Linked DNA regions of Homo sapiens. The protein of the gene in region 3 interacts with the protein of the main gene of each other region in a pairwise test. Each region holds a gene or a part of one and is shown on either strand. Other genes may lie near its edges.

Region 1 (3,750 bases), on a different chromosome or scaffold from region 3:
ACGACTACAGGTGCATGCCACCATGCTCAACTAATTTGTAAATTTTTTATAGAGACAGGGTTCTCACTTTGTTGCCCAGATTAATCTCTTGAACTTTTGGCCTTAAGGGATCCTCCAGCCTCAGCCTCCCAAAGTGGTGGGATTACAGGCATGAGCCACTGCACCTGACTAAGTAAACATTTTGATTGTGTTCTCATCAGCCACAGATCAAGGAAGTTATGTAACAGACAACAAAAAAGCAAGGGAGAGCCAGTACAAGTAAGGATTGTCACTAAAATATTCAGTGCAACTGATGAAGAAGAGTTGAATTTCCAGATGCTCTTAAAAGGGAAGGTGGGCCGGGCACGGTGGCTCATGCCTGTAATCCCAGCACTTTGGGAGGCTGAGGCGGGTGGATCACGTGAGGTCGGGAGTTCGAGACCAGCCTGGCCAATGTGGTGAAACCTTGTCTCTACTAAAAATACAAAATTAGAGAAGCGTGTTGGTGCATGCCTGTAATCCCAGCTACTTGGGAAGCTGAGGCAAGAGAATCACTTGAACCCAGGAGATGTAGGTTGCAGTGAGCCGAGATCATGCCATTGCCCTCTAGCCTGGGCCACAAGAGTAAAAATCTGCCTCAAAAAGAAAAAAAAAAGGGGGAGAAGGTGGGAGACTGCTCTATGTACACATAAAGGGTTTCAGAATCATGTTTTGTGAAAATATTTAAAAGGATTAGCACTTAACAAACATTACTTCTTTTGTACTTTGAAAACTAGTACGTCACAAAATTATGAAGGCTCCACATAAATTAGTTTCAGTTCTGTCCAGCAAGGGGCCATTAGATGATGATGGTCTATGGTCAGTGGTGAATCAGCAGTAGCATGGTCTAGAGCAGGGGGTCTAAATTTGAATTAGCATCAGGATTACCCAGAGGGTTGGTAAAATGCAGATTGCTAGGCCCACCCTCAGAGATTCTGTTTGAGTTAATACAGGATGGGGCCTGGGAACTTGCATTTCTTACATTTTCCCAGATGATGCTGGTACTGCTGGTACAGCCACTGCACTTTGAGAACTGTTGGCAAATAATACAACACAGTACAGTGCAGTGTTTCTTAACTTTGCCTTTACATTAAGCATCACCTAGGAAGCTTTCAAAAACCCCCCTTTCCCTGGCTGTACCCAAGACCAATTAATTCAGAATTTGGGGACATGAGCCCTGACATCAGCATGTTTTTTTAAGTCTTCCACTGATTCCAATGAGCTGGCAAGCTTGAGAACCACTGATATGTGGGAAGATAGACTTTGTGTCCATAACTGGTTGTTAGGAAGACACATTTTGTAAACCACTGAGCAGAACCATTGGTGTGCTGTGGATCCTCAAAATATATTTTTTTCTTCCCCTATTTTCTTCAAAAGTGAATTACAAGAGACCTAAAAACGTGAAATCTAATTTTTTTGCCAGAATATATATCTATAGCTTTTTCATGAACTGAATTCTAGATCTGTAGATTACCAGTTTAAAAGGGCATAAACAAATTTCAGTCCTATTTTTCTACACTGTATGGCGGAAATAATGTTATTTATAAATCTGAAATCTATGAAGTTTGGGGTATATATCACTTATATATGTTGGAGGTATATTTTATCATTCAATGCCATTTTATTGGTATAATTTGGAAGGTTTTTTTTAATATAAATTCATTTAAAAGTTAGAAAAAGTATATCCAACCATAAGGAAAAAAGAAAGATGAGTAGGTAATTAAATTTGTCTAGAGCAGTGATTCTTAAAATTGGTCCCTGGACCGGCAGCATCATCAGCATTACCTGAAAATTTGTTAAAAATATACAATCTCAGGCAGGCCCCCACCCCAGATCTAATGAATCAGAAATTCTGGAGGTAGGACCCAGGAATCTGCATTTTAACAAGATTTCCAGATGATTTTAATGCACACTCAAGTTTGGAAATCACTGGTCTAAAGTATTTATTATTTCCATGCATCTGTAAGAAGATCCAAAGGGGTCAAAAACACTGTTAGTCCAATGTGCATTTGTACAGTTGCTATATAGACCCACATTGCTCTAATAATAACTATGCTCTTGTAAACTCTACCCAAAGTTTATTATCCTTGCACCATTAAAGCTTAACAGTAAGAGGAAAATTAATAGATATGGAGTATATCTGGGGGGATTTTATTCTATAAATCTTCCACTATCAATTGTAATCTATTTCCATTTTCTACTCAAGAGAGAATTAAAACTATGATACTTGACTTATGAGAATAAGAATAAGGAAAAACAAAAACCCATCATGTGAGGTTGGAAGTGGGGAGAGTATTCCCAGGTCCGACACTAACCTTGAATTGTCCTCTTGAAGAATGCCTTGCAGGCTTCACATGATGCTACCCCATAGTGGTACCCAGAAGCGATGTCACCACACACTAAACACAGTCTCTTGGGCATCGAGTTGAGCATGTATTCACACTTGGTCTGGGGATCTTCAACAATGGTGCTGGAGCAGTCATCATACAGTTTCCTGACAGGCCCACTACCTCCCAGGATAGGAGCAGAAGGGTAGAGAGGTGGCGAGTCAAGTCCGTTCTGATGGCCATTCATGGTTGAACTGTAGCTCCCACTGGCGTCTGAAGAGCCACCAGGGCTGTGGTGGTTGACGCTGTCCGTCAGGGAGGCTGGGCTGGAAGGTTCCGTCTTGATGAAGGACGAACAGCTGGAATCAATGTGTCGATCTTTGTTTGACATTCTGCAGAGAAGCCTGAGATTGAGGAGATACAAAGAGAGACAGAAAGAGGAGAGAGTGTCAAGCACAGAGACCAAAAGAGGTAGAAACAAAAGAGATGGTGAAAAATAGAGAAAGGGAAAGGGAAAGGTAAAAGGAGGAAAAAAACAGAATTCATATGTTAAAGACATTGCTCTTTGAGAGAGTTTCCTAAGGGCTAGGGACTACACATCATTCATTCTCTAGTCAATACTTCTTGTTCTACAAGAAGGTAATCAGCATAAGGGCATGACAGGGTTACAACAAAGGGCCCAGACAGGCCATAAACAAAAGCTCTAAAGAGTCCGATTGCTTTTATTTTACCTTTCTCTTGGAGAACCAGTGTCAATATCTAACTCAACTCTAGATTCTAAATTTATCAATGGAAGAGGTGGTGATTTGCAAAGTCTATACCATTTCTAAAATTGTATTTATCCTCATTCTACCTTTCCTTCCTCATTCTGATGCTGCAATCATTTTATTATGAGCAGAATAAAACTTTTATTTTCAAGACTGAACAGATGATCCTCAGCTCTGTAATTACTGTTTGTCAGCACGCTTCCATAAGCATAACTGTGTCTTATTGATCTGACTAAAACACATAGGGAATATATCCTCAATCACTTTGTTTCTTTATTTAAATTGCTCTATTTCATAGCCATTTGGCAATATAGAAAGACATCAAGTATAAAATTCCAGCCAATATTTAAAGATTATTCCTAGAGCCTGCAAAACTTAGTGACTCATCACCAACATTCATTAATAAATACGTGCATGTGTTTCTTATGTGTGATTTGCCATTATTTAAGAGATGAATCAGTAAAAGCCATTTGAGCCTTCAGTATACCTGTAAGTCCACAAATCTGATATTATATGTATATTATCTGATACTATAAAATCTGATGTTATATTTACATTCAGTAAAGTAGAAATGTAGCATATTTTGTCCTAAAAAATATATTTGTGATGGTCCTTCCCCCACTTCTTTTTGCCATTTA
Region 2 (3,750 bases), on a different chromosome or scaffold from region 3:
GGCGCCTGTAGTCCCAGCTACTCAGGAGGCTGAGGCAGGAGAATCACGTGAACCCAGGAGGCAGAGCTTGCAGTGAGCCGAGATCAGGCCACTGCATTCCAGCCTGCGTGACAGAGCGAGACTCCGTCTCAAAAAATATATATATATAGATAAATAAAAAAATAAAAAATAAATAAAATAATAAAATAAAATAAAAATAAAAAAATAAAGAACACTTCTTAGACCAGGAGACCAGGGAAGTCATCCATGAGGAAATAACACTCCAGCTGATTTAGAGAGTATGAGTAGAAGGTAATGAGACAGAGACAGCAGGGGAGAGACAGTCACCTAGAGGAAACTGAATACGCGAAGACTCTCTGCTGACACATTGGCGGCTAGGAGGCTGGAGTACAAGGAGCAGGGAGAAGGCTTCAAGATGAGGCTAGAAAGAGAGACAGGGGCCCGACGGCAGGGCCTTCTTGTCCATGACAGTGATAAGGTTGCTAGCCTGAGAACAATGGGAAATCAGTGACGGTCTCATAGATGCATGTTTTGGAAGAGCACACTGCTTGAGGGTGAGGCAGCTTCTTCAGTAGTCTAAGCAGATATGACAAGGGCTTAGATTGGAGTGGCGGCCATGGAGAGAGAAATGGATGGCTTCAAAAAATATTTAAGAAGTGAAATTGGTAGGACCTGGTCCTGCATTCATTATGAGTAAGGATGGAAAAAACAGAGGATTCAAGGATGACTCCCAAGATTCTGACTTATACCACTGGGATAAGGTGATGCTTTTCCCTGAGATAAGGAATCCTGAGTGAGGGACCAGCTGAGGGGACCAATCACGATCTCAAGGACCAACTACATCTTAAATCATCATAATACGTATTAAGTACCTATATGGTAAATAGAACTTTGTCACACCACCACTAAATTAGAAGACTATACCTGAGAAAGAGAATGTTTGGCACTTAGCACTAGTAAATGAGAACAAAACAGATCCCTGCCCGTGGGTTCGACTTGGATGGAGTGGCTGAACAAAACACCATTGACCTTAACTTTCATGTCGGGCTATCTATAAGGAGCTGTACATTTTCCACTCCCTCTCAAGACTCCTATTAAAAGGCTCAAAGATCCCAATTCAGCAGATGAGCTTTGGACAGATTTATTCTTCGAGCAAAAACAAACAAACGAAAAACTATAGGTTGCTGCTAAGTGGAACACACCATCATCCAAATGACTCCTATTTTTTAATGTTTATACTAGATTCACACCTAGCAAGGTAGAACCCTCAGACTCCACTCTCGGCAGAAAATTCAGCGCATTCAATGACAGAATTGTGTGTTTCAGAATTTCTGAGCCCATCCATTCATGAACAATTGTCTTCAGCTGCCTCTAAGTCCAAGGCGAGCATTTTGCAGGTGAATGTTCATATGGCTCTGACGCACTTGAGCAGCACTCTGCAACTCCCCACCTCAGGAGCCCCGGGCAAATACAATGGCAATCCTACGAGGTTATCTCCGGAGGAGGAATTTTAAAATTAAAATGTTGAGTTGCTATTCTGATTACTCCAGAAATTTGCTCCAGAAGCAAGAGCAATGGTTTTTTTCCTTTCCTCCCACCACCAACAAACCACTGTAGAGCAGGCAGTCTCAACCTTTAAAAGACCAAAACCCCTCTTTAGCTTACATGCACCCTGATCAAGCTACGAACCGTGGTTTGTTTTTCCAAAGGAAGTTCAACTCTATAATTCCGTCTCCATCGTGGAAGAACTCACAAATGACACATAATATACGCCTCATATCGCTTCCCCGGGTTCCCTCACAACTTTCACAAACCCTCAGGGATGTGAACATTATGGTGCCAACTCCGCAGATCTTTCTTGCCTAATAGATGTTTGTGGAACCAAAATTATACGAAAATAAGTTAAAACAAAACAGCCAACTAGTCAGAACAGCAGAGGGGTCATAAGTGTTCTTTGTTATTGTTGTTTTTACAGAGGGACAACGAATAAACAGGACTTGTGGTTAGAAAAGAAGAAGAAAAATGATTATGACCATCTTCAACTTGGGCAGAAATTGTAAAATCTTTCTATGACCCAACACTGTCCTCTAGAGGCCGTATCCAATTTGTTCTTGAGTACAAAAACATGTATAAGCAATGGCATTAAAAACAATAAAATTATACAATAATTCTAAGTACAGAATTCATGGAATGTTTAATATAGACACTATTTTATATTATAAAAGGATTTTATATTTGAATAACCTTTGGATTTTAGAATAGTTTTAGATATACAGAAAAGTTCCAAATATAATACAGAGTTCCCATATACCTCTCTCACTCAGTTTCCTCTATTTTTTTCCAGTCTTACTGAGGTATGATGGACAAATAAAAATTGCATATATTTAAGGTGTGCCACACGATGTTTTGATATACATATACCTTGTGGAATGATTACCACACAGGCTAATTAACTTATCCACCGACTCACTAGTTACCTTTTTTGTATGTGTGGTGAGAATACTTGAGAACTACTCTCTTAGTAAATTTCAAGTATAGAATAATTATTAACCATAGTTACCACACTGTACATCAGAAATTGTTTTTCTTATCACTAAAAGTTTGTACTCTTTGACCAACATTTTCCCATTTCCTCTACCCCCACCCCCGGTTAACTACCCATCTACTCTCTGTTTCCATGAGTTTGACTTTTGAAAATGTAACAGAGATCATGCAGTATTTGTCTTTCTGTGTGTCTGGCTTATTTCACTTAGCATAATGTCCTCCAAGTTCATCCATGTTGTTGCAAATAGCAGGACCTCCTTTTTTAAGGCTGAATAATATTCCATTACATACGTGTGTGTGTGTGTACATATACTATCCACTCATTTGTTTATAGACACGTTGTTTCCATATCTTAGCTACTGTGAATAATGCTGCAATAAACATGGCAATACAGATAGCTCTTAGAGATTCTGATTTTATTTCTTTTGGGACTTATACCCATAAGTGGGATTGTTGGATGATATGGTAATTCTATTTTTAGTTTCTTGAGAAACCCCCGTACTGTTTTCCGTAGTGGCTGTGCCAATTTACACTCCCACCAACAGGTTCCTTTTTCTCCACACCCTCACCAACACTTTTGTCTTTTTGATAGTAGCCATTACAATAGGGGTGAGGTGACATCCCATTGTGGTTTTGGTTTGCATTTCCTTGATGAACAATGATGTTCATATACCTGTTGGACATTTGTACATCACCTTTGAAAAAATGTCAGGTCCTTTTTTCCGTTTTTTTTAATTAGGTCGTTTTTGTTTTTGCAATTGAGTTGTCTGAGTTCCTTATATGTATTGGAATATTAATCCCTTGTCAAATGTATGGTTTGCAACATTTTCTCCCATTCCATAGGTTGCTCCTTGTTTCTTTTGCATGCAGAAACTTTTTAGTTTGATGTAGTGCCACTTGTTTATTTTTGCTTTTGTTGCCTGTGCTCTTAGTATCATATCCAAAAAATCATTGCCCAGACCAATGTCAAAGAGCATTTTCCCTATGTTTTCTTCTAGTTTTATGGCTCCAAGTCTCACATTTAAATCTTTAATCCAGCTTGAGTTGATTTCTGTGTATGGTGTGAGATACGGATCCAATTTCATTCTTCTCCATGTAAATAACAGTTTTCCCATCATCATTCATTGAAGACACTATCCTTTCCCTATCGTGTATTCTTGGCACTCTTGCTGAGGATTAGCTGGCCATTTATGCATGGCTTCATTT
Region 3 (3,750 bases):
CCGCCTGCCCGCTGGGCCACCGCCTACCCGCCTGCCGCCGGCCCGCCGCCACCACTCACCTCCTTGCTGGTCTTCTGCACCCTCACCTCCATGTCGTACTTCTCCTCTTCAGCCGCATCGATCTTGGCGTGCAGCTGTTTGCAGAGCTCCTAGGGGTGGGTGTGGGGGCGGGCGGCCGTCCTGACACTTGGCAGCCACGGTCACCTGCCCCTGCCCTGACCACCCCACTGGCCCTCTTGACAAGTGGGGAAACTGAGTTAGCAGGCAGGCCTGCTGCTGGGGAGGCGGGGTGGCCGGGGAGGGGCTGGTACCTGCACTTCAGACATGGAGCCCGGGATATGCAGCGGCGGGCAGTGCTCCGCCAGGTAGTTCTGCTTCTCTGCCTCACGGCGGCTCTCCTCCTTCTCCAGCTCCGTGGCCGCTATCTGCAGCATCACACTCTGCGGTGGGGCAGGCGGTGAGGGGCTGCAGCCAGCTCCCCTGCAGACCCACCTGGGCCACCCCCCCGGGAGCCCACACCTACCTTCAGGTGCTGCCTGCGGGCCGTGATGGCCCTGTTCCGCTTCTGCAGGGCAGGGGACAGGGGGTCGAGTCAGGGCCTCCAGGCCTGGAGCACCCCCACCCCCTTCCACGCTCCCTGGCCAGGTCAGGGGCTCCGGCTCCGGGACCAGCAGAGCCTGGGGGCTCCTGAGGCCATGATGGGCAGGCTGGGCCTCCCTGGCCCCAGACCTTGCACTGGGACATGGTGCTGTGTGGTGTGTGACACTTTGCCAGGTGGCACATGGTGCTGGGAGGCCAGAGGCTGGGGGAGAGGAGGGCCAGTTGGGGGCAGGTCGGCCGGTGAGGTGGGGGCGGGAAGTGCAGGAATCAGAAAGAAGAAGTGATTCCCCTGTGACCAGGCCACAGCCACACTTCCCCTGCCCCAGAAGGCTTGGGGCAGCCACTTCCTCTCTTTCAGCAGCGTCTTGGTGGGTGGGTGGGGCACTTTTGCCAGCGGGGAGGGCCAGGCCATCTTCTCTGGGCCTTAGGGCCTTGAGGCTGTGACCTATGACCTATGCTGAGTTGGGGGAGCCCCCTCCTCGTCATGTTTTGAGCCCCCAGCAACTACTTACCTCCTCACTGTCCAGGGAGGGAGGACGCAGGCAGGACGGGGAGAGAAGACAGAGGTTAGGGCCATGGCTGGCGGGGTCGGAGTGTGTGATGGGGTGGACAGGGCAGGAGGTGGGCAGGGTCACTGTATGGGGGTACAGGGGTACCACTTACTCTCCCATCCTGAGGTCCTGAGCTTGGAGCCTGTGGGGAGAGGAAGACAGAGGTGTTGGCCAGGCCCTTGCCACCGTGATGCCTGTGCCCATCAGGTAGGTGGTGAGGGGTTCAGGGCTCCTGATGACAGCCCCCTCCCGCCCACCCCCTACTCTCACCTCCTCCCCCTACTCTCACCTCCTTCAAGGACAATGTCTTGGAATTCCCCAGGGTGAGAAGTAAGAGGAGAAAGTGTTCCCAAAATGTCCCAGGCATAGCCTGAGGAGCTGCAGCTGTCCCCGAGGGAGGGTGGGATGGGCCAGCGCAGGTGGCCGCCTGAGTGACGCTGTTATTTTTAACCCTCTCTCTTTGGCTTTGGGCCTAAGTGCATGGAAGAAATCCCTCCTCAGTTTGGCCTGGGGGCTCAGGTTCTGGGGCTTCTTGACCCCTAAACTCTCCTTCCAGGGTCCCCAGAGGTGAAGCCTGGTGGTCAGGGAGTGTCTAATACCTGCCTCTCGCTACAGCTGCCTCCCCAAAGCCTCTCCTTCTCACTCCCGGACCCGTGCAGGCCCCAAAGGGGGCTGCTGGTGGCATCCCCCAGGCCCCCAGACCCCCGCCCCAGGAAGTCCTCCCTCAAACCAGCTCGAGCCACGCCCTGTCCCCCGGCCTCGGCGGGCCGGGCTGGGCCTCACCTAGAATCTGGGCAGCAGGGCTGGGAGCGAGGTCAGGCCGGCAGCGGCGAGTTGGGCTGGTGGGCCCAGGGGGAGGGGTATAAATGGCCTCCCCCAGGCTGGGCCCCTGCTCAGAAAGGGCATAGAGTCCTCCTCAGACCAATGGGGGCGTGGAGAGCCACAGAGACCTCCCCACCTGTCCGGCCGCCTGGCCTGGCCGCGTGCTGCCGCCCAGTCCAAGAAGTCTTGGTGGGGGGTGCCGTGGCTGGGCTACTCTATTTAGGGCTCGGTGACGCGCTGGAGATGCCTCTGTCGTTCTCGTAAGGAGCCTGAGGACAGTGTCCCTGGCTTTGCCTGTGGCCTCAGCCGGGCACACAGCTCGGGTCAGCTGAGGGGTAGCTGCGAGTATCCACACCTCGCCTCAGCCCATCTCACCCGAGGTCAGCGTCCAGTCCACCAACCTGGCTGCTTGCTGGCGACAGCCACAGCCTCTCCCTGCGGGGCCAGCTCCCCGGCTCAGCCCCTGCAATGGGTTTCCCACTTCAGCCCAGGCCTGACCCCCTTCTGCAAGCCTGGCTTCTGGGGTGAGGCCTGGACCTCCAGATGTGGCCTTCTGGGCCCTGCCACAGTGGCCGAGGGCTGGGGGCTGCCCCCTCCCTGCGTGATGCTATCTTCCTGCCTGGGGAGCAGGACCAGGAGTGAGGGGCACGCCGCACGTGCCTCTGGGCCCCTCCCGCCTGCCCAGAACGCCCTGCTGCAGTCCCCTTGCCGGGCGACTTGGAACACATCCTTCAACCTAAGGAGAATGGCGCCACCTGCATTGGGAGCCTCTCACACCCGTGGGGGCTTGGGGCCCTCCTGGCTGCCCGGGCAGGCCTGGCATTGCCCTTTTCACCCAGGCCCGAGGCCATCGCCCCCCCAGCCCCCAGGCCCCCGCCCTGCAGAGGTCCCCTGGACCGTGACTTGGCACCCTCTCGGAGTGGGGGCTCTTGGCCCCAGCCCTGCCGGCTTCGCAGCCCCGTGGGGAGGATCAGAGGAGACAGCAGCGTGGAGGCCCCAGCCGCTAAGGCAGCCCAGATGTGTGGGGACTGGGAGGGGCATCCGGCCAGGACTGAGCCCCTAAAGGCCCCAGCGGCTTCCGAAGGCATCTGCTGCCCCCTGCTGCTCATGCAGGGAAGGCCCTGCAGCACAGGTCTCTGAGGTGTTGGGGGTCCTCCCTCCATGCTCACCAGCCCCCAGACACCATTGCCCACTCTGTCCCTACAGGGCTGGCTCTAGCCCGCCCCATCCCATGTGGTCCCGACTCTCTGGCCCCCACCTCCCCGGTCTTCCCAGGCGGCCCGGAGAGGGGAGATCTGTGCTCCCCGGGGAGGTTCCCCACCCCTACCCGAGGGTCAAGCAGGGACCGGTCAGAGGCCTCAGGGCCTGGCTGAGTCTGGAGAGGAGCCCCTCCCCCGTCCTTGTCAGGGGACCCTGGTGAGCGGGCCCGGGCCCTATTTCTGCATCCCCTCCAGGCTCCAGCCGGACACACAGTGGCAGGAGAAGGCGTTTATTGCAGTGGTCCTGCAGGGCGGCCTGGGCAAGTGCCTGGGCTCAGCGGGGAGACAGAGGCATGTGGTGCATTCAGGAGTGGGGCAAGGGCAGGCGCAGGCGAAGGCGGGGCTGCAGGGCCAGCATGCGGTCCACCTCCCTGGCTGGCCGCAGGGGGTGCCGCTGGGCAATGGGCCGCCGGGCGTGGGCCAGCATGTCTGCCCAGTGCTGCAGGGGCTGCCCCGAGGCCCGGGCACCCAGGTGCACCTTGCCTACGGGCTCAGTTCGGAGCGGCAGGCTGCGGTCC

What was found.
Region 1: the proteins of TNNI2 (region 3) and ESRRG interact in binary tests that used the Homo sapiens proteins (3 or more experiments, as listed by UniProt).
Region 2: the proteins of TNNI2 (region 3) and DRC8 interact in binary tests that used the Homo sapiens proteins (3 or more experiments, as listed by UniProt).

Annotation. Positions count from the first base shown.
Region 1 is NC_000001.11:216,674,743-216,678,492, forward strand, and holds part of ESRRG (estrogen-related receptor gamma), read right to left. Parts: intron 2,750-3,750; coding exon 2,334-2,749; intron 1-2,333. UniProt on the Homo sapiens protein: Orphan receptor that acts as a transcription activator in the absence of bound ligand. Binds specifically to an estrogen response element and activates reporter genes controlled by estrogen response elements.
Region 2 is NC_000001.11:245,077,560-245,081,309, reverse strand, and holds part of DRC8 (dynein regulatory complex protein 8), read right to left. Parts: intron 1-3,750. UniProt on the Homo sapiens protein: Component of the nexin-dynein regulatory complex (N-DRC), a key regulator of ciliary/flagellar motility which maintains the alignment and integrity of the distal axoneme and regulates microtubule sliding in motile axonemes.
Region 3 is NC_000011.10:1,837,218-1,840,967, reverse strand, and holds the start of TNNI2 (troponin I, fast skeletal muscle), read right to left. Parts: upstream 1,988-3,750; 5' UTR 1,935-1,987; intron 1,500-1,934; exon of another isoform or gene 1,441-1,499; intron 1,294-1,440; 5' UTR 1,272-1,293; coding exon 1,264-1,271; intron 1,120-1,263; coding exon 1,113-1,119; intron 762-1,112; exon of another isoform or gene 745-761; coding exon of another isoform or gene 730-744; intron 566-729; coding exon 524-565; intron 441-523; coding exon 312-440; intron 150-311; coding exon 60-149; intron 1-59. Other genes in the region: SYT8 (synaptotagmin-8), read right to left, coding at 3,537-3,750. UniProt on the Homo sapiens protein: Troponin I is the inhibitory subunit of troponin, the thin filament regulatory complex which confers calcium-sensitivity to striated muscle actomyosin ATPase activity.